4 linked regions of the Homo sapiens genome follow. The protein of the gene in region 2 interacts with the protein of the main gene of each other region in a pairwise test. Each region holds a gene or a part of one and is shown on either strand. Other genes may lie near its edges. The genes, in order: SEPTIN3, LASP1, VGLL3 and CRYBA1.

Region 1 (7,024 bases), on a different chromosome or scaffold from region 2:
TCGGTAGGGACAGTCAAGTCAGGCAAAACCGTGAACTTGGCTACAGCAGGCACAATCAAGCCGGGCACAGCCATGAATCTGACTACAGTTGGGACAACCAAGCCAGGGATGGTCATGGATTTGATAGCCTCAGAACCAGACAAGCTGGGCAAAGCCATGGCTACAAGAAGCACAGCCAAACCAGATATGACCACAGAGGGTATAGCCATGGATTCAGCAACATCAGACCCAGTCAAGCCGGACACAATCACAGCTACAGTGGGCACCAGTAGGTTGGAAACAGCCATGGCTTTGGCCAGAGTGAACAGAGCCAAGCTGGGCACGGCTAAGAATTCTCTTGCTTTGGACACAAGCAGGATGGGCACAGCTGTGGGTTCAGTTGTGCCAGTAACCCCAGACCCAGCCACTGGGAAGACCACACTGGGCAGTGTTAATAACCTAACCATATCAGACGTTGCTACATGCCTGCTAATGCCAAGCAGATCCACAGACCTAGCCCTGGACAACACTAATGCTGCCATGGACAGAGCCACAGAGCCTGCCTCACTGGACCTGGCCACAGAATACAAAGGTAAATGCAGAAACTTGGTTGGGGATGGACTAGGCTGCCGGGAGGGGGAGGTGTGTGAGCTTGGAGATGGATCATGCTTGCATGGGTTGAGAAACGGAGGAAGGACTCTAAGGTCAGGGTTGAATGGGTTGGGAGAAAAGGAAATGGGGGTTGTAGGGCCAGACATAGGGACTGTACCCTGAGCTGGGTTCTAACCTGCCAGTCTGAGGTCAGGCTGAGGGAAACTATCAGAAAGAAGGTTTTGGCCAGGTGTGGTGGCTCATACCTGTAATCCCAGCACTCTGGGAGGCTGAGATGGGAGGATTGCTTGAGTGCAGGAGTTCAAGACCAGCCTGAGAAAAATGGTGAGACTGTCTCTACAAAAAATAAAAAATAAGGGGCTGGGCACGGTGGCTCACGCCTGTAATCCCAGCACTTTGGGATCTGCCCAAGGCGGGCAGATCACAAGGTCAGGAGATCGAGACCATCCTGGCTAACACGGTGAAACCCCGTCTCTACTAAAAGTACAAAAAAAAAAAAAAAAAAAATTAGCCGGACGTGGTGGCGGGTGCCTGTAGTTCCAGCTACTTGGGAGGCTGAGGCAGGAGAATGGCGTGAACCCGGGAGGTGGAGCTTGCAATGAGCCGAGATCATGCCACTGCACTCCAGCCTGGGCGACAGAGCGAGACTCCGTCTCAAAAAAATAAAAAAATAAAAAATAAGGGTTGGGCACAGTGGCGCACACCTGTAATCCCAACATTTTGGGAGGCCAAGGCGGGTGGATCACTTGCGGTCAGGAGTTCAAGACTAGCCTGGCCAACATGGTGATACCCCGTCTCTACTAAAAATACAAAAGTTAGCCAGGTGTGGTGGCACATGCCTGTAGTCCCAGCTACTTGGGAGGCTGAGGCACGAGAAGCACTTGAACCTGGGAGGCAGAGGCTGCAGTGAGCCAAGATCGTGCCACTGCACTCCAGCCTGGTGACAGAGTAAGACTCTGTCTCAAAAAATAAAATAAGATAAAATAAAATAAAAAATTAGCAGGGCATGGTGGCATGCATCTGTGGTCCCAGCTACTGGGGAGGCTGAGGTGGGAGAATTGCTTGAGCCCAGGAGGTCGAGGCTGCAGTGAACCATGATTGTGCGACAGAGCAAGACCCTGTCTCAAAAAAAAAAAAAAAGAAAAGAAAAAGAAAGGTTAACAGGGGTAACTTGTGGAGGAGCAATTATGGTGAGTCCTCCTTTCAGCATCTCCCGGGATTGTTTGTTTCCTGAAGACCTGGAATAATCAGGTGATCAATAGGTGTGTCCACCTTTAAAAGCAGTGGCTCACACCTGTAATCCCAGCACTCTGGGAGGCTAAGGCGGGTGGATCACGAGGTGAGTTGTTCAAGACTAGCCTGGCCAGGCCAGGCGTGGTGGCTCACACCTATAATCCCAGAACTTTGGGAGGCCGAGACAGGTGGATCACGAGGTCAGGAGATCAAGACCATCCTGGCTAACAAGGTGAAACCCCGTCTCTACTAAAAATACAAACATTAGCCGGGTGTGGTGGTGGGTGCCTGTAGTCCCAGCTACTTGGGAGGCTGAGGCAGGAGAATGGCGTGAACCCAGGAGGCAGAGCTTGCAGTGAGCCGAGATTGCGCCACTGCAATCCAGCCTGGGTGACAGAGTGAGACTCCGTCTCAAAAAAAAAAAAAAAGAAAAAAAACTAGCCTGGCCAACATGATGAAACCCCGTCTCTACTAAAAAATACAAAAAATTAGCCAGGTGTGTAGGCTGAGACAGAGAATTGCTTGAACCCGGGAGGCGGAGGTTGCAGTGAGCTGAGATTGCGTCACTGCACTCCAGCCTGAGCGACAGAGCGAGACTCTGTCTCAAAAAGAAAAAAAAAAAAAAAAAAAAAAAAAAAAGCAAGCCTCCTACCTCCTACGTGAAAATACTGACTAGCGCTTTAGGAAGTTGTGATTTGTCTAATAGGTAGTCTCTGCAGCCTCCTCTGGATGTGAGATAATGACCTCACTCGAGACTTTCCAAATCCATTTACGCTCAGCCTTTTAGGAAGGTATCTGTTGCTTAAAAGTTGTCTTACCTGAATGTCTCTTTCTTGGTCCCCCACCCCCAGCCCTTTAATCCTGAAAGGTAAGTTGGAGCCTTGTATATATGGAAGTCCTACACAGAACTCTAAAATAGGGCAACACAAGGGCTGGACATTCATTTGGTCTTAGAAAGCCTGTGACATGCCTAAAGTCACACCAAAGCTGGCTGGTGGCAGTAAGCTGATTGGAATCCAGATTGTTAAAATCTCTACTTTGGGCAGCCTCATTCCCAACATTTCAAGGGCTCAGAGTTTTTGGGTCTGGAAAGGTGCCTAGAAGGCATCCAGTCTAATGCCTTAATTGAGTCGTTAGATTGTCAGACCCCTTTCCCTCCACCCCACACACTCAGTCTGGGCACCTCACCTAAATTCTGGTCTTCACTTCTCCCTACGAGATCTCAGCTCTCCCTCCATCTGCAGCCCAGCCCTGTCTCCTGAAGTGCAGATGTGGGCAGCCAGCAGCCTGCTAGGCTTATCTACCCGGATGTCTCCCGGGCATGTCCAGAGGTAGCCCTTTTCTTCTTGAACTGACTCCTGCCTCCCTGATCTCACTCTCTCAGCTGTAGGCATTGCCTACCTTTTATTAGGTGCCTAGAAACCCGGGTATCCTCTTCTTCCTCATCTCTCTCTTGCCATCTCATCCAGTCTACTTCCCACCTTGTTGGTTTACCTCCTCAGTACTCAACTATCTGGCTGGCTGTCCCCTCCTCTCCATCCTTCTGCCCCTGTGAGGCCACCTCCCACCCACCAGCTTGTTCCCTGTCCACACACAACTGCTGCAACGACTCCCACATTGAATGGCAGCACTTTCGGCTTAATATTCGTCAGTGACTCACCATTACCTTCCATTAAAATCCAGCTTCCAAGGCTGCGTGCGGACTTCTCCAGCCTCTTATTTAGCTCTACACACCTGTCTGGAATTTTCTCTGCTTCAGCGACACCAAGGACTCTGGGCTGTCCACCAGCACCACGCAGCTCTCACCTCTGGAGACCCTCACCTCTGCTGTCCTCTCTTTGCAGAATACCTCTCCCTTTCCATTCTTCCCTTCCACTCCCATTTGCCTTTCCATCTGGCCCTCATCTCCTCCAAGAAGTCTTCCAAGCCCCCTCTCCCCAGGGTGCCCACCTGCCTGCACCCTCAGTTCCCTGTGTGCACCCCGGCCCCTGCATTAGGACATTCCATCTTCCTGTCTCCTCCACTAGACCCAGAACCTTCGAGGGGAGGGATGGTTGTCCTCACCCCTGTGAGGCAATATGCTGTCCATTAGTATCCACTGAATGCGTGAAATTTTTTTCTAATGGGCAAACTGAGGCTCAGAGAAGTTCCTGTCTGGCTCAAGGTTATTGGTTCATCATTCTGGAGCAGGGCCTGGAACCCGGGCCCCTGACTCGGCTCTACAGGCACCCGCGCAACACCCCAGCCCCCGCGTGACTCACGCGCGCTCACGGCCGCCCGCAGCTGCCACTGGTCCCCTGCGCCCCTCCGCCCGTCCCCGCCGCAGCCCAGTGGGTAAGGGGCGGGGAGCAGGTCCAGCGGGGAGAGACGGGACTGGGATGCAGGCACCTTTCCGGGCCTGGCACCTGGAGCCCGCGGGGGCGGCTCCTGGACCGCCCGCAGCGTGGACCCGGGACCAGTTCCCGCTTGCGGGCGCGGGCGCCGCGGGAAGGGGAGGGGCCCTCGGCGGGGCCGACGGGCGCGCGGTCACGTGGTGCGGGTGGCAGCGGCGGCGGCTGGCGGCGGCGGCAACGGTGCGCGCGGACAGGGGCGGCGCGGCGCCGAGCGAGCCGAGGCGAGGTCCCGGGGAGGGCGCGGCGGCGCGGGGCGCAGGGGCGGCGCGGCGGGGCCGCGGGCCGGGCGGGTGGGAGGAGAGCGCGAAGGGGCGAGGCCCGTTTGCAGGGGCCGCTCGGCCCGGGGAAGCCCGCGCCCCGCTCAGCCTTGCAGCCCCGCGCCCGGAGCATCTCCCTGGAGGAACGGAGACAAAGGAGGATTCATGTCCAAAGGTAGGGCGGCCGGCCAGGCCACCGGCACCCGCCAGGAGGAGGCTGCGGCCCCGGCCAGCGCGGCTGGAGGCGCTCCTGGGGGAGGGTTTCCGCGCCGAGGAGCCCACGCGCGGTGACAGATGCGCGGACACACGCACACACGGTGGCACCCACCTCGAGAGAGACAATCTTGGAGAGAGGCAGACATAGGACGCGGGGAGACGCAGGGACCCACGGACACGCAAGCAGGGACCCAGATGCGCACAGAAAGCCCCATGCTGGAGTACACCAAGACACGCACACACACACACACCACGCACAGGTGCCAGGGCCATGCCAGCCGGATGAGAGACCTGTGCACTGATACATACGTCCCCTCCCCCGCAACCCCTACAGGCACACGCTGAGACAGGCACCAGCTGGTGGTCTCCAAGGGAACCCGTTGGCCTCCAGAGGACTGGGATGGGGGAACGGGTGTCCCAGGGCCCTCTGCTCCTGCGAATGGGAAAGGACCGAGAGAGCTTTCGTGATTCCTTTTCCCAGAGCCTAGGGCTGGAACTGGGGTGGGCTGGAATTGCCTTTGTGGGGGGCGGTGGGGTCCTGAAGGCTGCGGGGGGCTGAGGAAGATCCATCTTCAGGGTGGAAGGAAGAGGGGGGGCCTGCACTAAGCAGGTGCTATTTTGGAAAAGTACCCTCCCCCAGCTGCTACCTTCCTAACACAGGGGTGGGGTCCCTGGGCCAGACAAAGCCAAAGCCATTCATTTGCCTGTAAAAGGAAGTGCCAGGGTCTTTGCTTAGCATGGGAATGGAGGGGCTGTTTCTTGGCTGCAACCGAGTCAGGTGGATGGTGCCTCTCCCTGGAGCACTGATGGGGCAGGTAGCTTCTGGCAGAGGGTGCTGCAGGCAGATCCCCCTTCTCCAGGGGCCCTAGGAGAGCCAGGAGCTGAGGGGGGCCCCAAGGACCATCTAGCCAGGATGGCAGACTTGAGCTGCACCCTGCTGTGACCCGAGCTCTTCCCCACCCTTGGGGAGCCCCCCTCCAATCCTTGTTGCAGAGGAAGGAGGAGGTCTCAACAATTCTACTCCCTTGACTGTGGCGGAGACAACAGCCATTGCTCACTGGGGGGTCAGCTGCTCTGCATGGGGAGAAGCATCTGAGGGAAGAGAAAGGTGATGTGTCTGATACCTGCCTCACTCTGAAGTTCTCATTCACTCATCATTCATTCATTCACTTATTGAGGAGTGCCTGTGGTATGCTGGGTAGACTGGGGCACAGAGATCAATAAGACACGGCCCCGCCCTAAAGAAGGGTGAGAACTAGTACGTATTTGTGCCAGATAATTTACATTCTTCATTCTGTATAACCTTCATAGAAACCCAGCAAGGTAGGTTCTATCCCCAGTTGTCTGAGCAGAAAATGAGGCTCATAAGGGTCACCCAGCCAGGATTCAAGCCTGGGTCACCTGCCCATCTGACGTTGACATGGTGGGACCAGGGGAGTTGTAGGGACAGAGGATGGAACTACAGAATCCAGCTCCAGAGCAGCATTGGTTCTGTGCCCCAGAGGTCTTTGTTTATTTGTCAGGCACCCTTACCAGACAGGGGGCCCTCAAGGGCAACAACCTTGTCTGGGGTACATAAGTGTCCTTGGAATTTCGCCTAGGGCTTGGCTGGTGTAGACCCCCATTTGACAGCATATGAAATGGCCTAGATGGGATGGAATGAATGAATGAGTGAATGTGATGAGTACCAGAAAATGTGCAGTGGGCACAGAAGAGGGCCATCCACATCAGAAGGCAAAGCAGAGGCTTTCCTGGGAGTAGCAGTGGGGCTGAATGCTGGAGGAGGAGGAGGAGGAGGAGGAGGAGGAGGAGGAGGGAGCCAGGGGTTGGAGGGGGAACAGGATCTTCCAGCAAAGCTTGTGGCACAGTGACCTGCACACATTTACTGTACTTGGGGCTGGTGGGTGGCTTGTTAGCATGTGACTGGCATGTCACTGGCATGTGGTGGGGAGGCTGACTTGCCAGCAGGCGCTGTGTACAGTGCACACAGTGGGTGCTCATATGTGCTTGTTGGAGGAATGAAAGTGAGATCTACCAGGTCCTGGTCCTGTAGTGGGCCTGTGGTAGCCCCTAGATGCTGCTTGGGGATCTGGTAGGACCCTCTCTCCATCAGGGTCTATCTTTTGGGCGTGCTCTTTTAGGATGCTGCAGTTGACAGGCCAGGGCGGAGCAGGCCATGGTGAGAGCACACACTTTATAGGAATCTTTACACAACCTCTCATAAGTAAATACAAGGCATACTTTCCAAGTCTGTAAAATGGGGATAAGACCACCCCCCCAAACCATGTGGCTCTATCTTATAACACAGGTTGAGACCAAATGGGCTCAGCTGCA
Region 2 (6,838 bases):
AGCTCCCTAGATACAAAGCAGGTGCACAAAGTAGGTGCTCAATAAATATTTGTTGAATGAGCAAATGAGGTCACCCTGTTTCTCCCCCAGCTCTAATCCCAGAAGTCCTCTGGAGAAGCAAATCTCGACCTCCTTCCTCAAACACTGTCATCAGCAATACATATTTATCCAGCTTGCAAAGCATGCTGGGTACTGCAGGTTGGGGGCAGGGTGGCCTTCAGAGGTGACAAGGTTTTTACCCACCTATGCCTTTGGGAGATAAGGCTCAGGGAGGAGAAAAGGCTGAAACCAAGGACACACCCTGTGCTTTGGGCCACGTAGTGGGCTGAGTACCATGGGGGATTGTAGAGAAACGGGTGAGTCTAATTTGACTCTTTTGCTGTAAATGGGAGGCCTTGGGAAGTTGGTTAGCAACTATGGGACTGAAGCTGCCTATGGGACTGAAGGTTTCCCCTCCTCCCTGGTCACAGCCCAGCATCCTCCAGGCACTGGCTCCCCATTCCTGGTCCTATCCTTACTGCCTGGAGCAGGTGGAGAGGAATAGGTCTGATACCTGGATATTTCAGGTCTCCTGCTCAGTACAGGGGGCGAGGTCTCTCCAGGGCCACTTCCTATAGGGAGAGTTCTAAAAAGAGGAAGGAATCACCAACTCCCACTTCCCTGGGCAACCCCCACTTGAACGTCCTCTTCCAGCTAGGGTAAGAGAACTGGGGAGGGCACCCTGCCCATCCCTGCTCCCCTCCCCTCGGGTACACGGCACTGAAGGTCTTTCCAAGGGGAGTGGTGTGGAGCTGAACAGAGCATCCCAGAGAGGTAGGGAGGGCATAGTCTATACAGCACCCTCTTTAGCACTCAGGGACTTTAGTGCACTGCCCCACCTTTAAGGAAATGACATCATCATACCCATCTGACAGATGGTGAATACTGAGGCCTAGAGACATTCATAAAACTGGTGGGAGCAGACCTGGAACAAGGACCCAGTTTCCCAACTCCTGGAGTGGCAATCCTGCCTTCATGTTTTGCTTTTTCCTTATACGGGTCAAGTGCCCACTGCCTCTTCCCAATTCATGACTGTGGAGAAGAAGGGGACCACAGGGAACTCAAGATGCAGAGGCCAAAATCTCTGCCACGAGGGGCGGGCGAAACCCCAGTGTGCAAGGACAGGTACATTCTCAAGGGGAGACTTCATTATCTGATAGCTCTAAGCTCAAGTCCTGCCCAACAGCGGCTGGCATGGTCATGGGGAGATCAACAACTTTCCTCGTGCCCACAATATACCCCCTCCTCTCCTCCTGCCCAGTCAAGCCCAGGACCAGGAGGAACAGTGACACAGCAGCGGCCCCATATGCCCACACTCCCCAAGAGCAAGTTCAAATATCTTTCAGAACCTCCAACCCCACCTCCTCACGCTGACTCAGAGGCCAAAGGTCACTGAGGAAGCTCACACACCAAGGGGGAGGGGAGAGATAAGGTGTCCAATAAACTATCCTCTCCTGAACAAAACCTGGCTCCAGGTCAGTAATGAACTTGGCCCCAGGGCTCTATACCCCTCTTTCATCTAGTGTTCCCACCCTTGCACCTCTCTTCCATCCAGTCCTCCCAGCCCTCCCAGTTCAGATGGAAAGGACAGAATACTTGGACTTGGAGCCAGCTTTGGGTGGTGGATGAAAGACGCGGTGAGGAAGGGCACAAAATCACAGAGGCCTCCCCTCCAGACTGGGGAGGGGATGCAGAGGGGCAGGTTTTACCTTAGGATCTTACGGAGCTTACAAGAGAACAGGATCCTACCCTAAACTGTACGGGAAACACCCAGTTCTACTCTCCAACCCCCCTCCAAAAGTCTAATGGCAACCAGATGAACAAGTCCAGCATTGGGGAGACAGGGCCCCCAGGGGACACTGAATCTCCACAAGGCCACCCTCCCCTCCCCCCAATACCTCCCCCTTTCCTCGGCTTCCCCAGAACTCAGCCAACCCCACCCTCCATTGGAGAAACCTGCTTTGAAAAGTTAGCTCTTTGTTCTTCCACACGGTCTCCTGGCTCTGAGCACAATTTCAGGAGATCTCAGCTAAGCACCCTCCACCCACCCTACTCTGCCACCCAACCCCACCCGGCTCAGGCTGGACGGCCCAGCACCGGGAGTTGGCTTTTAATTGGAGGTGGGGGTTGGGAAGCTGTGGAGGAGGTCTGCGAGTCCTTTAACGACTGAATCCAAGGGGGTGCAGGTCGTTCAAAAACGGGGCTCTTGCGGCAGAGCCCGGGTCCTTACCCAAAACCCCCCGCATCAGATGCCACACACTCGCAGGCTGATAGCCCCCGCCCCGCCAGGCCAGGAAGCCAGGCCACCCCCGCCGGAGCGGACGGTTTTGCAGGGCCCCCCAGCCTCTGCCCCGCCCCCCCGCCCCCTCCACCAGCGCCCCGCGCTTCCGCCTACTTGGCGCTCGGCGCAGAGCGGAGAGGGAGCGGCCGTCTCTTCTCACTCTCCAGGCCGTAGGGGGCGGGACTGCACCCCTAACCTTCCCCCAACACACCCCGGCGCCTGACTTCCCTGCTCCTCTCCCGTCCTCCCAACCCCGGGACACAGAGCCCACCCCTCTCCAGCAGCGGCTGCCCGCTACGCGTGGACTTCCCGCCTCGCCCCAGATCTCCTGGTTTTCAGACTGGGATGTGTCCCCACACCCCATGACACCGCCCGCTCGCCCTCCCTCCATTCTCCTGGGATCGCGGGGATAAGGCGGCAAAGACCCGGCCCTTCTCTCCTCCCTGGATTCGGAGCACTGCGGGGGATTGCAAAGACGCGTCTCCCGGTCCCGGGCTCACCTTATCCAGACAGTTCACCTTCTCCGTGGGATACACGATCTTGCCGCACCGGGCGCAGTTGGGGTTCATGGTTCCGAGAAAAGCTGGGGCGGGGACGCCTGAGCTCACGCGCGTCCTGTTCCCCGAGGCGAGCTGGCGGGAGGCGGCCGCGGCTGCAACTACACAGGCAGCAGCGACGGCGGCTGGAGCTGGGGAACTGGCCTCCGCCTCCGCCCTCCTTCCCCTAATAAACACAGCGGGGAGGAGGGGCTGCACTGGGGCGGGCACGCGCCTCGGGCGCGGGCAAGGGCACGCGCAGCGAGGCGCGCTCTCCGGGCGACGTGGGGCTGCGCGGGGGCGGGTTCCTGGGGGGACGGCGGGGCCCGCGGTGCTGGCGCCTCAGCGCTCTCAGGCTGACTGCGCCCGGTGCCCAGGGCCCTTCCCCAGCCGGAGGCGGCGCAGAGGCGAGCAGGCTGCACATCTGGGGCGCCCGGGCTGCGGGAGGCGGGCTAACCCCTCAAGCCCGTCGAGGGTGGGGTTGGATCCTCCTGAACGCTGGAACTGATTCACCGCATTCGGGGACTTTCTACCCGGCATGAATCTGCGGACCGAACGGGGACCCCCTACCCTGCCCCTCTTAGCTCTCTTCCGGCCCACACCCTTTCCCACATTTGTGGGGCGGAACCCGTCCCTCCCTCTTGGACCCTGCGCGCTGCCGGGCCCGGGCTAGTGCTTCCCTCTCGAGCCCCTGCAGTGCACCTTCCCGGGGTTCCCCGGATGCGGGCACCGTCTGCGTTCAGCTTGACCCCTTTTTCTCCAGCATTCCTTTCTCCTTCTGTTACACCACTACTCACAGTGTAGCAGCTGCAACAATGCTTAGCACCCAAGGAGCCGCCTCCAGGCGCTGTAGAGGCGCGGGGGTATAGCTCAGTGGTAGAGCATTTGACTGCAGATCAAGAGGTCCCTGGTTCAAATCCGGGTGCCCCCTCAATGGCTTGGTTTTTCCTTCCCCTTGTTAACCATCTGTTTTTCATTCTTGACTCACATTTTAACATTGGGTCCTGACTAAAAAAAAAAAAAAAAAGAAAAGAAAAAGTATCTTCCTCATTTTTCAACCTTAGCAGAAATCTTTCGGTTTTACTTTGTGCTCAGCGGGAGGAGGGGGTGGGTATAAAAGCTGCGCGACCGCATTACTCGCGCCAGAGGTGTAGGGATTTCTGCGGCCACGGGCGCCAGCCTCAGATGGGTCAGACAGTTCGAGGTGCCGGGTTTGAGGGACAGGATGTTTCCAATGGGGGTAGGGAGACAGGGGAACGCCTCAACTTGGCGTTCCTTTTGGGGGTGGAGGGTGGGTCAGGCGAGGGAAACCCATAGACACAGCCCTTCTCCAACTTCAACTTTCTGTATTAATGGTGACATGGACGTGCTGTGTTCATCCTTGACTATTAATGTACAAAAGTAAAGTTATAACCCAGTGCAAACTGAGATAAACGAACACAGTGTTTCTCAAATTTGAACGTGCATCAGAATTACCTGCAGGGCTTGTTAAAACACTGCTAGTTTCTGATTCTGTAAGGGGGCCCCGAGAATTTGCATTTCTACCAAGTTTCCAGGTGCCTCTGGTGCTGCTGGTGTGGGGACCACATTTTAAGAACCACTGAAGTAAGAATAAAAGGCCATGGAGTTTCATAACCTAAAGATGGGGACAAGTATCTGCTGGCTGCGTGCCTGACAGGGTCACTGTTGGGCCGGAGGAAAATGGTAAGTGTGACGGGAGACAAGGGCGTCCCCCTCGACTAGGTTTTGCCCAAAAAAAGGAAAAATAAAGGAGAAAGGAAGAGGCGTGCTGCCTGGGTCAAAGGGCAGCTGCGATATTTTAAACCCGGAATGTGGTTGTGTCATTCCTCGGACCCCGGGGAAACGCGCATTTTTTTCTCCTGGCTCCTATTACTGTGAGCTGTATCTCTAGGCTGAACAGAGAGATCACAGATCAGCAGAGCTGCGGTTCCGTGCAAAACCCAGGAGGAACCAGTTTTACCTCTCCTTTAGGCCTTGAACTTTCCATGTATAGCTTATCAAGCCAAAGCCCTGCCTATGAGCTGAGTCAAGAAGGAAGAGGGGAAAATTGCTCGCTGTCTACCTTCTATCTGTGTGCCCTGTCCTGTTCGAGTTCGCGAGTATATGAAAACCTCTGAATTTGGATTACTTCTCCTAGTTTTCATAGTCAAGTACGAACTACTGCCCCGTCCAAGACATATTTTTTACCCCAAAACAAATTATAATTAACGTTAAACCAATGGGCATCGGAGATGGAAATCGATACGCGCCTTTGTTCTCCAACTGAGAGTACTGGTGCGCTTATCGCCACTTGGGGTATGAGGGCTCAGATCCACCTAAAGGCAGCCTCTGGTTGCTGTTCTCTCCCTCTAGGGTACGGGAATCCTTTCAAGGTGAAAATTAGGTAGGTGGAAGATACAAACGACACCTCCCGTGAGTTTTGCATTCAGAACTCGCTGACTCAGGTTATTCCTGGATGGCTGTGAAAAAAACTTAAAGAAACCCGAGGGGGCACCCGGATTTGAACCGGGGACCTCTTGATCTGCAGTCAAATGCTCTACCACTGAGCTATACCCCCTCTGGCGGTGGCTCTCTGGTAAATTGTTTTTACATCGATTGATCCCAAAATTTTCATACTTTCACCATTCGTTCAAAATTAGTGTCTCTTTGCTAGATTATACTGAAATTACCAATGAGGAAGGAGAAATTAAAAGACTAGGCCAAGATAGGCCGGGCACAGTGGCTCACGCCTGTAATCCCCAGCACTTTGGGAGGCCGCGTCGGGCGGATCACGAGGTCAGGAGTTCGAGACCAGACTGACCAAGATGGTGAAACCCACCCCCCCCCCCCCCACCTCCGTCTCTACTAAAAATACAAAAAATTAGCCGGTAGCGGTGGCGGGAGCCTGTAGTCCCAGCTACTCAGGAGGCTAAGACAGGAGAATTGCTGCAACCCAGAACCCAGGAGGCGGGGGTTGCAGTGAGCCGAGATCATGCCACTGTACTCCAGCCTGGGCGACACAGCGAGACTCCATCTAAAAAAAAAAAAAAGGCTAGGCCAAGACGTGGTGGCAGTTTGAAAAGCGTGTGAATTTAGGTGCCAATCTGCTTTGTCTAGGTTCAGTTCTTTTTTTTTTTTTTTCTCCAGACGGAGTCTTCCTCTGTAACCCAGGCTGGAGTGAGTGCAGTGGCGCAATCTCGGCCTCCCGGATTCAAGCGATTCTCCTGCCTCAGCCTCCCGAGTAGCTGGGATTACAGGCGCCCGCCACCGCGCCCAGCTAATTTTTGTATTTTTAGTAGAGATGAGTGTTCCACCATGTTGGCTAGGCTGGTCTCGAACTTCTGACTTCATGATCTGCCCGCCTTGGCCTCCCGAAGTGCTGGGATTACAGGCATGAGCCACCGCACCCCTGCTTGGTTCAATTTTTGTTTGTTTGTTTGTTTGTTTTCCATTTTGTGGAGATGGGGGCAGGTGGTGGGTGAAGGAGGCCGTCTCCCTATGTTGCCCAGAGACGGAATTTCGCTCTCCTTGATCAGTCGGGATTGCAATAGTGCGATCTCGGCTCACCGCAACCTGTGCCCCCCAGGTTCAAGCAATTCTCCTGCCTCAGCCTCCCGAGTAGCTGGGATTACAGGCATGCACCACCACGTCTGGCTAATTTTGTATTTTTAGTAGAGACGGGGTTTCTCCATGTTGGACAGGCTGGCCTTGAACTCCCGATCTCAGGTGATCTGCCCACCTTGGCCTTCCAAAGTGCTGGGATTACAGGCGTGAGCCACCACACTCGGCCTAGGCTCAATTCTTTATCCACAATCCCACTCATCTCTCCCCGCTAGCAAGTCAGAGAACAACCTCCTGCAAAACTGGATAAAGTTTTTCCTTGGTCTCTCCAAAAAGAATACGAACACGCCATTGCACTCCAGCCTGGGCAACAAGTTTCGCTCTCAACAAGAGCGAAACTCCGTTGCAAAAAAGAAAAAAA
Region 3 (7,024 bases), on a different chromosome or scaffold from region 2:
ACACGCCCTTTGCCTGCTAAGAGCATTGTTGCTGTTGCCACATAAGTACCACATAAAACAGAGAAGAGCCTCCTGAGACCTGCTGTCCATGAAGGCAGCTGCCAAATTGGGAACTCTAATAAGATCTGGCCTCAGGCATCAAATGACTCCCAAGTTGTCTTTATTTTGTTAGTATGTGGCAAAGAAAGAAGGGAAGCCTGTGCCTGCTGTGCCATCACACACGCATCTGCAGAGGGATTACCAAGTCCCCTGATACTTTGTTTAGAAAAGCAGCTTGAACCCAGTCTCAATAGGAAGCTGAAATGTGTTAGATGGGGCAATGATCAACAATGGAAAGCTCAGTGGAGAAAAGTTAACCAAAATAAGAACGTTCCACTCATGTCACGGGAGAGGTAAAATAAAGCTGAGCATTTATGACTCTGGGGAATTATTTGTTGTGAACCAGCACATGATTAAGGGTTCTCCACACTACAGAAAAGCTAAGGAAGGAAAGAATTTCTTTAAGCTTTTGGAAAGAGAGTTCCAATGTGCCACAAAATGTTCTAGCAAAAGAACCTGGGACCCACTACTTTGGACTCCAGGGATACAATGATCAATTTGTCGTTTTGGGCTCTGATGCCTATGATTTCATGAGCTCAGAACTATGAATACTATTAATATGACCAGTCTGGTCCAAAAATCAAGCTCAGACATTTGACACAGAACCTTCAGAACTATTGAATTCCAGACAGGAGATGAATGCTCTGTGAAGAAATCATTTCCTTACTATTAGTTTCTAAATCTGTTGAATATAAATTTTATAGTAGTCTTTTAAGTCTTGTATTATTTAAATCAGAGACAGGGAGAGAGGAGAGGAACAAAGGAGGAGGAATAAGAGAAAAGAAGGAAAGGCAAAGGAGGATAAAGTCAGGGAACGGAGGGCAGAGGAGGGGAGAGGAGGAAGAAAATGAAGAAAAAAATCATTCTTTTAAAATATGTTCCCTAATTCTTGTTCAAAAGGCTACACTATAGACTATATTTCAGAAACCAGTTTTTATAAGTCATACATAAGGCCTAACAAAAAAAGAAAGGAAAGAAAAATTACTGAAGTGCACCATTTCTGAATTCTGTTAGGCCTGACACATGGTATAATGCTCAGAGACATGGGAGATTTAAATAATGGGCTCATTTCTTTTTAAACAGAAGGTACCAGAGATTCCATTTCAAAGGAACAGACTACTAACCTAAGATATGAGAGAAAAGCTCTGAGACCTTTCTCAGGCTGGATTTCATGAGCTAGTCATACCAGTTTCTGCAGGAATGCAGAAATTATTGCAAAATGGCTAGGTTCCATAAACATGTTGGTAAAGTTTAACTTTACAGATAAGAAAAAATAATTTCAAAACAAATTTCCACCCTTTCTTAAATTAACTTTATCTTGTTATAGGAAGAAAGAAATCCAGCAGCTTACCTGTATCGAATCCCACGCTGGGCACTATGTCTACTGTTCCATGAAAGGCTCCAGCCCATGCTGAGGTAGCAGAGGTGACTGTAGTTGGTTCTGTCTTTGTGATGTCACACTGGGGAGCAGGAATCCTGGCCGCATGCACTGAAGGCATCAGCAGAGGCCCATAGGATGGATCCAGGGCAGAGCCAGCAGGAGGGTGGTGATGGTGATGATGGTGGCGGTGGCGGTGGTGCATGTGGGCATGAGGGTGGTGGTGCCGCATGTACACGTCATGCATATGGCTGTAGGATGGGCTCACCTGAGATGTCAAAGGATAAGGCCAGGACTCAGACACAGCAGGGGGAGGGGCTGGGCCAGTCTGATGCAGGTTGTGTCCCGGCCAAGGACTGGGATCAGCTGCAGAAAAGGTGCCAGGGGGTCCAGTGACCTGGAAGTCAGGATGAACTCCCCCCAAACAAGGTGCAGGTGGGGGCTGGTAAGAGCTGGTCCAAAAGGAAGTTGGGAAACTATTCCGCTGGCTTGAGAGAGCTGAGCTGTCTGAGAAGACAGAAAATAAAAAACATTATTAACATAAGACTCAGTTTTGGGATAGACTTGCCTCTAATTGTCCACTCTAATTGTCCAATAATATTTTACAAGCAGTCAAATTAGCATGCACTCTTATTCTCCCCAAACAGGGGTGAATTGATACCAGGTTGGCCTCTGGGCTCGCAAGCCAATGGGTCCATGTGCAAGATCCAAAGTGTTAAATGAGCCTCCCTCCATTTGCTTTGCTTGGCTTATGCCGTCACAGTCTGTGCTAAGGTTTGCAATTTGGGGATTGAAAAATTTCATTTCCTTCTGAGTACCTTGCAGCCATTAGGCCTAAGAGGAGGTCATATCTACCCACTTCACTGGTAAAGAAATCTTATGCCATAAATGAGGTTTGTATAAGTTGGACATGATCATTTTTACCAACTTCTAAATGCAAATACAATTTTCATTTAAATGAAACATTTTAATGCCGAAGGTAACAATGGAAGTAAGATTACAATTACTTATACTCACTAACACTCATTTTCCATTAAGAAGAGTGTATTCCAACCTCATTTTATTTATTTATTTATTTATTTATTTATTTATTTATTTATTTATTTTCTGTGGAGATCTGGGAGTCTCTAGACCGAGAATAAAAATGGTCAATATTTAATGACAGTATCAAATGCCCAACATTTTTCCAGGGGCTTTTCATGGATAATCTCATAGGAGTTTCATTCCAGGCCTATGGGGTAGTTATTGTTATTATTCCCATGATGAGAAAATCCCAGTAGAGAAGAAGCCTAAGGCTTAAGATGGCAAGAATGGGACTAGGCTTTGAAGCCAGGTGGCCTAAATGGCCAATGGCTGGGCCTCTTCATAAAGTGCCACAAGAGGGCGCAATTGTAACTGTGAACCTCAACATCTCGAATTTGGTGAAGATCCTATGGAAATGATGAGTGGAGGAAATTCAAGTAGAAGTCATGGGTTTGAGGAAGTATTTTGGGGAGAGGGAAATATCAAAGAATAGCACTTAGAGACGAATAAGAAAGAAAACGATCCCCTAACTCTTCATCAGTTCAATTTCCTACTCAATCGTAATAACACATTTATACACGACCTACTATGTATCAAACATAGGCGTCAGGGATGACCAAATGGACATCATTTTTAGTCACAATCTGCAGAAGGATAGATAAGTAAAAACAGACATGTGCAAGGTGACACGGTAGGTATTCTCCCAACAGGAAGCACAGAGAGCCCCGACCCAGCTTAGAGAGTGATAAGTGGAAGCTGACAGACTGAGTGGGGGCTAGCCCTGGGAAGTAAGCTTTAGGCAAATGGATCAGCACATAAGAAAAGGCCATATATTACACACACGCACACACACACACACACACACACACACACACACACACATATGACAGCAGCAGCATTTGAAAGACAAAAAGAGTTCCATAGGCAGAAGGTGGCAACAGAAAAATTGAGACTATTGAAATGAGGACCAAGATGGGTGTAGACTTGCTGGCCATGGTACTGAATGTAAATTCTATTCTGAGGTGGCAGGGTCTCAATGGGCTTTGAAGGGTTTTAATCTAGTAAGTGACACAGTCAAATCCGTTTGTGGAAAGATCAGTGCCTCCACCTGTAGCCTGTTGCCTACAGTGTTGTATAACTAAACAAGCACTGGGCTGGGAGACCAAGGAGCCCAGCTCTGATCCTAGGTCTTACCCTATCTCATTTTATCACCCAATATGGACCCATTGATCTTTCCATGGTTTACTTTCTTTCACTAAGAAAATGAAGTATTTGAACTCATTAATTCAAATTATCTACGGCTTAATACTGCTAACAGTCTGTGAAGTGCCCTATGGATTATTTTTATTTACAGAAGAAGACATTTTCTAAAGATGTTAGTCATGTGAGTTTAAGAGAGTATTTTTATACTGAGTTCCACATAAAAGAACCTTGCTAGATCTTTCCATTGAATGAAGGGTATGAATGGAGGATATCTTAAGAAGTATTTTAAAATAAGAATATTCAAAACTCTGACATTATCTATGTTCTCTCTATAAATATCAGGCCATAGTTTTCTTGCCTCAGGGAAAGCTTAAAAAACTTCAGTCAACCACCACATATATCATTTGGTTAACATAATTCGGCATTACTGTGGTGTGTGAACATTTCCTCTCCCCTAAAGGCTGTGGCAGCAGCACTGCAAGCTCTTCTATTCTCTCCCCTTCAGCTGGGCACCAGAGCTATGATCATGACCATTCATCCCATTCATCCTGTGGTCACACAGCTATTCACAGTCAATTCCCTCTCTCACAACATCTCCATCGATCTCAAAACACTTGGGGAAATCTAGGAAATGGTGTTCTTCAAAAGGCAAAGAATGGAACTGCACACTTTAAGTCTTCAAACAACCTCAGGAAACTTTTAATTGAATGACTTTGTTAAAATCACAATCTATCCAAAAATACCACCTATAATCAGCCTTACTGACATTGAGGTAACTATGTTTTCTTGAATTAACAATCGTCTCTTTGCAACATATGAAAAATACTATTAATGACAAGAAGGAAAGTCGTGTAAGTTGTAAGAAGAAAATTCAATTTGCCTTAGGTGATGGTCATTTGTAAAATATTTCTGTCATACCCACAATGAAAGCCATCAATGTTTAAAGCTTAAAACCCATACAGAGAGTTTAGAGAGGCTCCTTATTCTACATAGTTCATCCTTGCTACCACACATCTGCCACTTTGCTCTCACAACTCCCATCTTTGGGACCAAAGCCTTCATTCTGCTCCTAACTTCCATCTCCCGAGGGGCTAGAATCCTATTATGAAAACCGTTGAGCCCCAACCACAAGTACGTGCCAGAGATATAGAATTCCCCTTATTAAAATCCACCATTAAGATGTCAAAAGTACGGAGAGTATATACCATTTCTCTGTATGCTTTTAGTCTCATTTATATGTACATGGAGCCAATCTTATTTTATAGATGCTTATGCAGTTTGAATATGCATGCGCAAATGGGAATAATGAATCAATTATTTATCAAAAATATTATTGGTCTATTTATGAAGTACTGTACCATGATTAGTGAAGACATTATTACTGAAAGTAGAAATCTATTTTTGAAAATGCACTCCATAAAGATTGAACAAAGTTTTAAAATGCTCCAGGGAAAAATAAAATTAAAAGGAACTTAATATTTTCCCAGTCAATATGTCTCTTGAGATGAATATAAAGTTTGCAAAGATCTATGCAGCCCTTTAAAAAAAACCTGTTACATTTACAATTGAAACAATATTGAGTTGAAAATATGTTTATGAAGAAGTTTATACTTCAAAATCACTATTCGGTGTCTTGCTTGTTTAAGAAAAAAAAGTCTTGATGCAAAGGAAGAGATGATATGCTTTGTTTCATGCCTGAGAACCAGTGTGCTTATTTCATATGTATGTAAATTTTTTTCATTACATGATTCTTTGCTTATGAGTACTTAATCACAGCCACATTTGTTGGATGAAGAAGACATATGAAAAACTGCATGGGCTATTTCTATGCAATATTACATTTCAGGTGAGTGAAGAAAATACAATACTTTATGCTATTAACACTATATGGTGAGTTTGGATTCAATATTACCTGGTATACAGGTGATGTTAACCAATATTTGGATGATGTTGACACTGACAGTCTAACACATACAAAATGCCCAACTGTAATTTTGGTTCAATTTTCATTTGGGGTTAAAAATATTACTCACACATACATACACACGAGTTTATTTCTAGACAAAAAAGAAAATGATAATATTGATACATTGTCTAATAAAATCCACTAAAAGCAAACCCAGTAATCTCACTATCTGATTTAGACTGCAACATGGTATACCAGGTATTTCTTTCAATTTCACAATAGTGGGATACTTTTTACACTGATTGTAAATGTCTCTTAAAAAAAACACACACACACACACATTACCTCCAAAAAAATTTTTTAAAATCTCCGAGTAAAAAATTTAAGAAAGATAAGATTCAAAATTTAAAGAATGATACAGCTTATTAATTTTGAAAATAACAAAAACTAAATTAAAAGGAAAATGGGACAATGAAGTGTTATAGAAACTCTAAGTCATCTTAAAAATTTCCAGAAAACACATTAGAATCAATATTGATTAAAATATGATTATTAAATGCTAAAAGGTAACATTTTTACATTTTTTATTAATATCAGTTAAAAAACAAAATTCTACTCAATTCTTAAGCTAAAGTGTTCTTGCTGTAATTTCATTGCCATTCTCTTGTTGTTCTTCCCATAAAAATAAATGGCTGGGTCAGAAGTGAAATGACATGTGTTCCAGTGTTTTCTGTCATTCAGTAATTATGCATTACCATTATGTCCAAAGATTGCCTTCTAGTTACTTTCTTCTAGAGTTGCTCAAAATGGGCCTTGTGACTCTACAATGAGAGTTTCAAGGGATGATGTCAGAGGCCGATACTCCTTGGAGGCAGCAGGGTGAGATTAGTCACGCCTCACTTTTTTCCCCATGTCTTGGTCCTATGGACATTCTGTTCATTTCCAGTATCAGCCAGCTCATCAGACAGGCCCTCCTTTTCCTTTCTCCATTTGACTATTTAGGTTTCGTATTTATTTTGAGAGCTTTTTCCCATGAGAATGAATTGCCCAAGCAGACCCTATGTACATCAATGAGCCAACAGATGATTTTCTTTGCAACTGCAATATCAGTAAGATTAGCATTCTGTATGGTTTTAAGTCAGTGATTTACTCTGCTATGGCTTGACATAGCTCCTGCCCTTTTCTACAGATACACACAGACTCATTTCTGTAAAGATCAGTGCATAGGCATATTTGAAACCAATGTTTAGCGCTGTGCTAAATTAATCATATAGATTATTTTTAAAATCTTTATAATAACTCTAGGAGAAGGGTATCAAGAAACATATATTTGTATGGAGATAAGGGACCAATCATATTCATTAGGTTTGTTATTTTTTTTTTTTTTTAGATAGAGTCTCACTCTGTCACACAGG
Region 4 (8,023 bases), 9.6 Mb from region 2:
AGCATGGCCCAGAGGCCAGGATTCTGGGAGTCCCAGGAGCTCCTTATAGATTCTTAGCTTCTCCAGCCATACCCCCTATAGAAACCTAGAGTGTAAAGGAGAGTTATGGTCAACCCTTTTTGTACATTGAACTAAAACCTGGCTCGTGGACCTGGCCAGAGGACCACTCGCAAAGCTGTGAGCTGGCCTCAGAGTTGACCCAATGAGGAGAGTGGGGAGTGTTGGAGAGAGGCCAGTGAGAGGCCTGAGGATCAGCCACTTCGGCCAATGGTTAAAGCCAACCTCAGGATGGGAGGCTGAGTCCTGTAATTTATTTGGGATCTAGTAGTAAATATCTTTATGGGCCCTCATTTTCTCCATGGACATAACTGTTGCTGGGCTGCTGTATTTTAAGATGACTTTAGTGGGGAGGAGAGAGGAGTTAGGAAACTAGGTATCATCTCCCACCCATCAATGGCATCCACAGTCATCCTTCCTTTGTCCAGTGGGACATCCTGAGAGATCCTTCCTTCGACAGCACTGGAGCTTGTGTGGACCTTTCCCCTACAAACTGGGGTTTTTCTGGTCAGTCACTGCCTTATGGACGAGCACAGGCCTGGGGCCTGCTCTGTGCAGCATGTCACCCCTGCCCTGTTGGATGTGATGGGGGTGGGCTTACCTTCCATGGCCCCAGGGACCCCGGCGTAGGGTTGGTCTGAGCCATCTTGGTGGTTGGAAGGGTTTCTGGAAGACAGAGCACACACGAATGATGTGGCCTCTTGGGAGGAGGGGGAGGTGAGGGAATGCCTTGAAAGGTAAAGGAGACTTGAAGTCTGCAAGACAGACTTTGGTTGAAATTCTGGCTCTGCTGCTCACTAGCTGTGCCTCGGGGTTTGTTGTTGTTGTTGTTGCTATTTTGAGACAGGGTCTTTCTCTGTCATCCAGGCTGGAGTGCAGTGGCACAATCTCACTTCACTGCAACCTCTGCCTCCTGGGCTCAAGTGATCCTTCCGCCTCAGCCTCCCATGTAGCTGGGACTACAGGCATGCACCACTATGTCCAGCTAGTTTTTGTATTTTTAGTAGAGATGGGGGTTTCACCATGTTGGCCAGGCTGGTCCCAAACTCCTGACCTCAAGTGATCCACCGCGCCCAGCCTGAGCCTCAGTTTTTCCATTGGTAAAGCTTCGACATGCAGTTATTGTAAGGATCAGAAATAATAGGCCGGGCACGGTGGTTCACGCCTGTAATCCCAGCACTTTGGGAGGCCAAAGCGGGCGGATCACCTGAGGTCGGGAGTTTGAGACCAGCCTGGCCAACGTGGTGAAACCCCGTCTCTACTAAAAATACAAAAATTAGCCGGGTATGATGGCACACGCCTGTAGTCCCAGCTACTCGGGAGGCTGAGGCAGGAGAATCGCTTGAACCCGGGAGGCAGAGGTTGCAGTGAGCTGAGATCGTGCCACTGCACTCCAGCTTGGGCAACAGAGTGAGACTCCATCTCAAAAAAAAAAAAAAGAAAAAAAACAAGGATCAGAAACAATAATGCAGGTAAAGCACTGAGACCCTGTCCTCTCACTTGCTTTCAGGTGACAGCATTACCTCTGTCTGCAATATAAACTCTTTGGCAACCACCTAGGCCAGACCCCTCATGTGACTGGCCAAACAGCCAGCCATGCCAGGATCCCAAGCCCCAGACTCCCTCGTAACCCTTCACGGTCTCATCCTTATCTGGCCTCTTTCTGCTTTTCTTTTTCTTTTTTTTTTTTTGAGATAGAGTTTCACTCTTGTTGCCCAGGCTGGAGTGCAATGGCGCAATCTCGGCTCACCGCAACCTCCGCCTCCCAGGTTCAAGCGATTCTCCTGTCTCAGCCTCCCTAGTAGCTGGGATTACAGGCATGTGCCACCACGCCCGGCTAATTTTGTATTTTTAGTAGAGACGGGGTTTCTCCCTGTTGGTCAGGCTGGTCTTGAACTCCCGACCTCAGGTGATCTGCCCGCCTTGGCCTCCCAAAGTGCTGCGATTACAGGCATGAGCCACGGCGCCTGGCCATTCCTTTCTGCTTTTCTATCTCCTAGATCCTACCCAGCCTTGACCTTGCCTTCTCAGAGGCTTTCCTGCCTTCTCCAGCCCACAGCCACTTGCTTGCTTTCTTGATTTATAGCACTCATCACAGTACCAATCTGTGTTCTGGTTGGATGTCCTGGTGAGCACCTCAATGGCAAGGCCTCGGTCTTCTAGGGGATTGGTATAGCATCGTGCTGAGCACATGTGGAGATGAGGGATCAGGGGGACATTGAAAAAGACTTATTGAAGGAAAGTGAAGAAGAAAAGAGTTATAATACTTACACTCAAAAATGGCTATCTACATGTCCGGCCCTGTTTTAAATGCTTTACATGCATTCATGCATTTAATCTTCACATACAGACTATGAATTAAGAATTATCATTATCCCCATTTTACAGATGAGGATACTGAGGCTCAAAGAGGTTAGGTAGACAGTGAAGATGGTAGGACGAGTTTTAAAAAAGGAAGGACAGAGCAAGAAAGAGGAAGGAAAAGTGGGGGAGGAAGGGAAGAAGGAAGACAGGCAGGTGTGTATTAGGTTTCTTAGGACAGATATTCATGGCCCTCCTCCTGGCTGGTATTGGGCCCAGGAATGATGCATGTCAACTCTGTAATATATTTTTCCATTCTGAATCTCTGAATAAGCAACATTTCCCAGGTCCTGCTCCCATACCTTCTCCCTGCTCGTTTCTTGGGGGCCCATGCCCATCCCCCAGCCTTAGTTGCTAGGGCAGTGGTTATTGCTATATAAGTGACTCCTCTTGGGGTGACAAGAGAAGGCTGTCTTCCGCCAGAGTTCCCCACTCTTCTCCAGCCACCCTAGAAGGCTCTACACACTAGGCAGGAGAACTGGGCCCTCTCCTGGGCATGTCTCTGCAGGGCAAGGAGAGGAAGGGCAAGGGCACCCTGAGGGCCTTACTCACCCAGCTCCTGCTGCTCAGCCTGGGTCTCCATCTGGTACCACTTGCTCTGTGGCCCTCCTCTTTATAGCCCTGCGGCCTCTGGCCTCTGGCCCTGTCAGCACTCTGCTCTCCCTCTGCCTTTGTTCCTCATGATCCCCAGAGCTTTGGTGGCTCAGCTTGCTGGGGCCTTTGTTTAAACCAGGGATACAGAAATCCAGAGAGGCCCCTCTGTTGTGGGCATGGCTGGCTGCTGCAGGCCTTGGCTTTCTTAATCTCTCAGAGCAGCTAGGGGGTGAGGACAGAAGTCTCTGCCATGAGTACTTGTCTCTTGTCCTTCTCCAGGTTCCTCACACCACCTTGGGATCTTCCTAAGACCTTAAGACCCTGGGAGACCCCATGTCATATCAAACACATCAAAATGCACCTCACTTCCATACAGATGTGCATTTCTTGTTGTTTAAAAATGTGAAAGAATTATTGTAATTCTGAACTCAATATGAGAAAAAATGGTTCATTGTATTCTTGGGAATCTTTATTATGCTGTATTTATATATAACTATGTAAGGGTTGACTTCAATTATAGTTGACTAGCAGACATGTGTCTCTCTGTAGCTATTTTATTAAATATTCCTTTTAATTTTGCAATTTTCTTTAAAAATTTTGGAGCTATAACTTTTGGGTTTTTTAAAAAAGAATTAAACCATTTATTGAATAATTCCTATATATTAGACATGTGCTAAATGCTTTACTTAAAAAGTTTGAATTAAATACTTTTCCACAACAAAAGAAAGAAATACTTTTTCACAGCCACCACAACAGTGCTATTTTCACCTCCATTTTCCAGATTAAGAAACTAAGAGAACAATCAGGTGACTTGCCTAAGGTCACAGTATTTATAATGGCAGAGCCAAGACTCGAATCCAGTTCTAACCAACACCAAAGTCACTGCCCTGCACTGGCCCTCCCTCAGGAGTAATGCATAAATGGCCCAAAAAATTCCAGGAGAGGAAAGAGACCCCCCTGGCTAGAACTGCAGTTCTGAATATAAACACTGAGCATATAATGGATGTAACTTATCTGTTTCAAAAGGGGAAGGAGCCTAGAAATGAAGCAATTTTTCCTCCTCAAATGATCTTGGCTGCCTGTCCCTTTGTCTTCCATGTTAATTCCTTTCACCATTCTGCTCCCAAACAGGCCAGGTCCCACATCAGTTCCAGGAGGAAAGGGCTCTTTCAGCCTGCGGGTCATCGTTGGGCAGCAGTAGGAAGGGGAAGAAGGCAACCTTCTGAATACCTCCTTTGGACTCACCATCTAGATGTAAAGGGTTCACCTGCTCCATCTCAGATTCCCGGGGGCCTTCCTGTGAAGTTGTCTAGGCAAGCGGTGATAGGGACCTAGATGTCCTTGCTTCTCCCCTCTAGCTCACCCAGGCCAGGGGCGAGAATTCCTGCCACCCACACCTTCAAAACCAATTTTTTTTTTCTTTTTGAGACAGAGTGTCGCTCTGTTGCTTAGGCTGGAGTGCAGTGGTGCGATCTTGCCTCACTGCAACCTCTGCCCCCCAGGTTCAGGTGATTCTCCTGCCTCAGTCTCCTGAGTAGCTGGGATTACAGACACCTGCCACCATGCCCGGCTAATTTTTTTGTATTTTTAGTAGAGATAGGGTTTCACCATGTTGGCCAGGCTGGTCTTGAACTCCTGACCTCAAGTGATCTGCCTGCCTCGGCCTCCCAAAGTGCTGAGATTACAGGCGTGAGCCACTGTGCCCGGCCAATTTTGACGTTTTACTGAATTGTTTTAGGTCTTTGGAAATCTCACAGGCCCAAGTTACTATGCGTATAGTACCTTAAAGTGTAAAATGACTTCTCCCAGAAACTTCAGGACACTTGATGAAGGTAAGGTAGGGGAATCGTGGGCCTCCGCAGGGGCCCTGAAGGGGAAGATGTGTTCTGCAAGCATCACAGATATTGTGAGAAGCAAGAGGCTGCAATGGATGTGGAAGGCTTTGAGCCAGGCAGATGTGGGTTCAAATCCCAGTTTCCTGGCTGGGAGATTTGAAGCAAGTCACTCAGACTCTCTCAACCTCAAAAATAGAATATCTGCCTGATACATTGTAGGCTTATGACTCCTTACCCTACTCTCTTTCCAATGAAAGATACTATTGAAAATTTCGCTGGGCACGGTGGCTCACGCCTGTAATCCCAGCACTTTAGGAGGCTGAGGCGGGCGGATCACAAGGTCAGGAGATCGAAACCATCCTGGCTAACACGGTGAAACCCCATCTCTACTAAAAATACAAAAAATTAGCCGGGCGTGGTGGCGGGCGGCGCCTGTAGTCCCAGCTACTTGGGAGGCTGAGGCAGGAGAATGGCGTGAACCCGGGAGGCGGAGCTTGCAGTGAGCCGAGATTGTACCACTGCACTCCAGCCTGGGGGACAGAGCGAGACTCCATCTCAGAAAAAAAAAAAAAAAGAAAAAAGAAAATTTCATAGCAGCTTGGAGAGAAAAAGAAAGTTCTCTCAATTCCTCTGCAATCTCTCCAGTCCCCGACTCAAGTTTCATCAGTGGCCCCTTTTCTTCAGAACCAAAAATCAGGGGGTGAGGTCTGGTATGTATTCGAGTATTTGCAGATTTGGGTAGAACGTTCCAGACCAGGGGTTTCCAATGTTTTGGCTTCCCTGGGGCACATTAGAAGAATAATTATCTTGGCCCACACATAAAATATACTAACACTAATGATAACTGATGAGCTAAAAAAAAATTACAAAACAAATCTCATAATGTTTTAAGAAAGTTTATTAATTTGTGTTGGGATGCATTCAAAACTGTCCTGGGCCACATACCACCTGCAGGCTGCCGGTTGGACAAACTTGCTGTTAGACATATAAATCTGATGCTAAGCATGGCACATCGCCCCAAGGATGTTTCTGATGCCTTGATTAACTCGTGATGTCTGGACGGATGTCTGGCAGGGGACAGAGTTGCTTTTGGTATCATAGCATGCTCTGGCCACCTGGTGGCTGTGCAAGGGCTTAAAGCACTAGCTGTCTATGGTTGGTGATTCTTCTTTCCTTTCCCTTCTCTTCCTCCTTCCTTTCTTCAGAATTAGGGTCTTTGGGAAACACTCATTTAGTCATTTTTTCAATCATCCACTCTTAGGCTGGCTTAGGCCCTCACAGTGTGTCCTCATGTCATCCTGTGCTTTTCCAATTACACAAGATCACATTGATCATGCTGCAGAAATTGCTTTAGGAACTAGAAGTACTGGTTTCCAAATGTTGGGGGAAACTGAGGCACTTGGGCCTCAGATACAGGACAAGACTTTTCATAGTATATTTTTCTGTAATCTTTAAATTTTGAACATTGGGAACATATTTTCTATTAAGACTAAGTGATTTTAAAAAATAAAACATTGTTTACCTATCTAATTCTTCCACTAGCCTCCATGCTCTATAAGGGCAGGAGCCTCATCTGTCTAGTTCACTGAGGTTTTTTTTTTTTTTGGTTGTTTCTTTCTCTTTTTTTTTTTTATTAAGACAGGGTCTCATTCTGTTGCCCAGGCTGGAGTGCAGTGGCACGATCATGGCTCACTGCAACCTCCACCTTCCGGGCTCAAGCGATCCTCCCAACTCAGCCTCTCAGGTAGCTGAGATGGTAAGTGTGCGCCATCATGCCCAGCTAATTTTTGTATTTGTTTGTAGAGACAGAGTTTTGCCATGTTGCCCAGGCAGGTCTCGAACTCCTGGACTCAAGGGATTCACTGGCCTCAGCTTCTCAAAGTGCTGGGATTACAAGTGTGAGCCACTGCAGCCTGCCTGGGTCATTGTTACGTCTTCGGCTCTAAGCATACCTTCTAGCTCAATAAGTATATTCCGAATGAATGAATGAATGAATGAATGAATGACTGGGTTTTGTGATTCTGGTGGCATAGTCCTTATTGCTAGGAGCACCCAGCTGAGTTTGGCCTTCTCACCCCAGCCACAACTGGCCTGCTTGGGCTTCACACACCCTCAGCATCGTAATATGGGGGCTTTACATCCTACTGAATTGCTAGTACATGGAGATCAACTTAGCTAATTTTTAATTTTTGCAGAGAAGCGAGGCTTTTATGTTTGATTGAAAAGCCCAAACACACATGCACAGAACTATAGTGGTGGTCGGGTGGGAATCAGGGTTATTGTGAGAACAATTTACAAATATCCATCATACATTCCTGGAGTCATAAGTCCTCATCTGGCCTCAATCCACTTTTCTCAATCACCTTAAGTCCTGAAAGATTGAGGATTCTCAGCTCTCCAGTACTGACCACCAAGCCTTCCAAATGTCAACTCAATATAGTTTTTAACAGAGTTCTGGCGGATTCCCCCTCTGACATTGTCTGGCACTGCTGCTTCCCTTGCGGCAGCCCCCAGCCCCATCTCATTCCAGGAAAGTTAAAGCAGAGCCACTCAAGGAGTGGTAATGAAGGGAGCAACCAGCTTGGAATCCCTTCTCCCAGGCTGAGTATGGGTCTCTCCTGTTCATCCTTATTAATAATAACTACAGCTTACTGAGCATTGACTGCAAAACCAGACAGTGTCTTTGTAATCCTTACCACAATGCCGTGAAGTAGATAATAATACCCATTTTACAGATGAGCTAACTGAGGTTCTGAGAGGCCAGGGAAGTTCTGGGCCAGGGAACCTAGCAGGGACTTCAGTATATGTCTATCTGACTGCAAAGCCCATCTTCTTTCTTCCTGGCACAAAATAGGGTGATAATATCTACCTTAACCACTGCTATCAGATGAAGGGAAATAAAGGGATTTAGAGCAATGCTAGGTACTCAGAACTCATCACCACATGGTAATTGCATTACTGACTGTGCCAAGTCAGATACCATCTTTTGCTAAATTCTCATAGAGACAAGTGGGAGCAAGTAGCACAGATTTTAGAAAAAAAATTCAGATAAAAAATGTTTCCTTTGAATTTGGAAAATTCACTCCATTTTTCTTGTTTTCCGATATTTTTCTTTATTAAATTTTAGCAGCGTATTCTGTCAGTCTAGTTTTCTAGAGGGCATGGATCTTTTGGGG

The links.
Region 1: the proteins of LASP1 (region 2) and SEPTIN3 interact in binary tests that used the Homo sapiens proteins (3 or more experiments, as listed by UniProt).
Region 3: the proteins of LASP1 (region 2) and VGLL3 interact in binary tests that used the Homo sapiens proteins (3 or more experiments, as listed by UniProt).
Region 4: the proteins of LASP1 (region 2) and CRYBA1 interact in binary tests that used the Homo sapiens proteins (3 or more experiments, as listed by UniProt).

What each region holds. Positions count from the first base shown.
Region 1 is NC_000022.11:41,972,426-41,979,449, forward strand, and holds part of SEPTIN3 (neuronal-specific septin-3), read left to right. Parts: coding exon 1-571; intron 572-4,083; exon of another isoform or gene 4,084-4,158; intron 4,159-4,352; exon of another isoform or gene 4,353-4,639; coding exon of another isoform or gene 4,640-4,649; intron 4,650-7,024. UniProt on the Homo sapiens protein: Filament-forming cytoskeletal GTPase. May play a role in cytokinesis.
Region 2 is NC_000017.11:38,866,241-38,873,078, reverse strand, and holds the start of LASP1 (LIM and SH3 domain protein 1), read right to left. Parts: upstream 3,022-6,838; 5' UTR 2,890-3,021; coding exon 2,821-2,889; intron 1-2,820. UniProt on the Homo sapiens protein: Plays an important role in the regulation of dynamic actin-based, cytoskeletal activities.
Region 3 is NC_000003.12:86,967,140-86,974,163, forward strand, and holds part of VGLL3 (transcription cofactor vestigial-like protein 3), read right to left. Parts: intron 1,985-7,024; coding exon 1,451-1,984; intron 1-1,450. UniProt on the Homo sapiens protein: May act as a specific coactivator for the mammalian TEFs.
Region 4 is NC_000017.11:29,241,842-29,249,864, reverse strand, and holds the start of CRYBA1 (beta-crystallin A3), read right to left. Parts: upstream 3,007-8,023; 5' UTR 3,002-3,006; coding exon 2,971-3,001; intron 724-2,970; coding exon 659-723; intron 1-658. UniProt on the Homo sapiens protein: Crystallins are the dominant structural components of the vertebrate eye lens.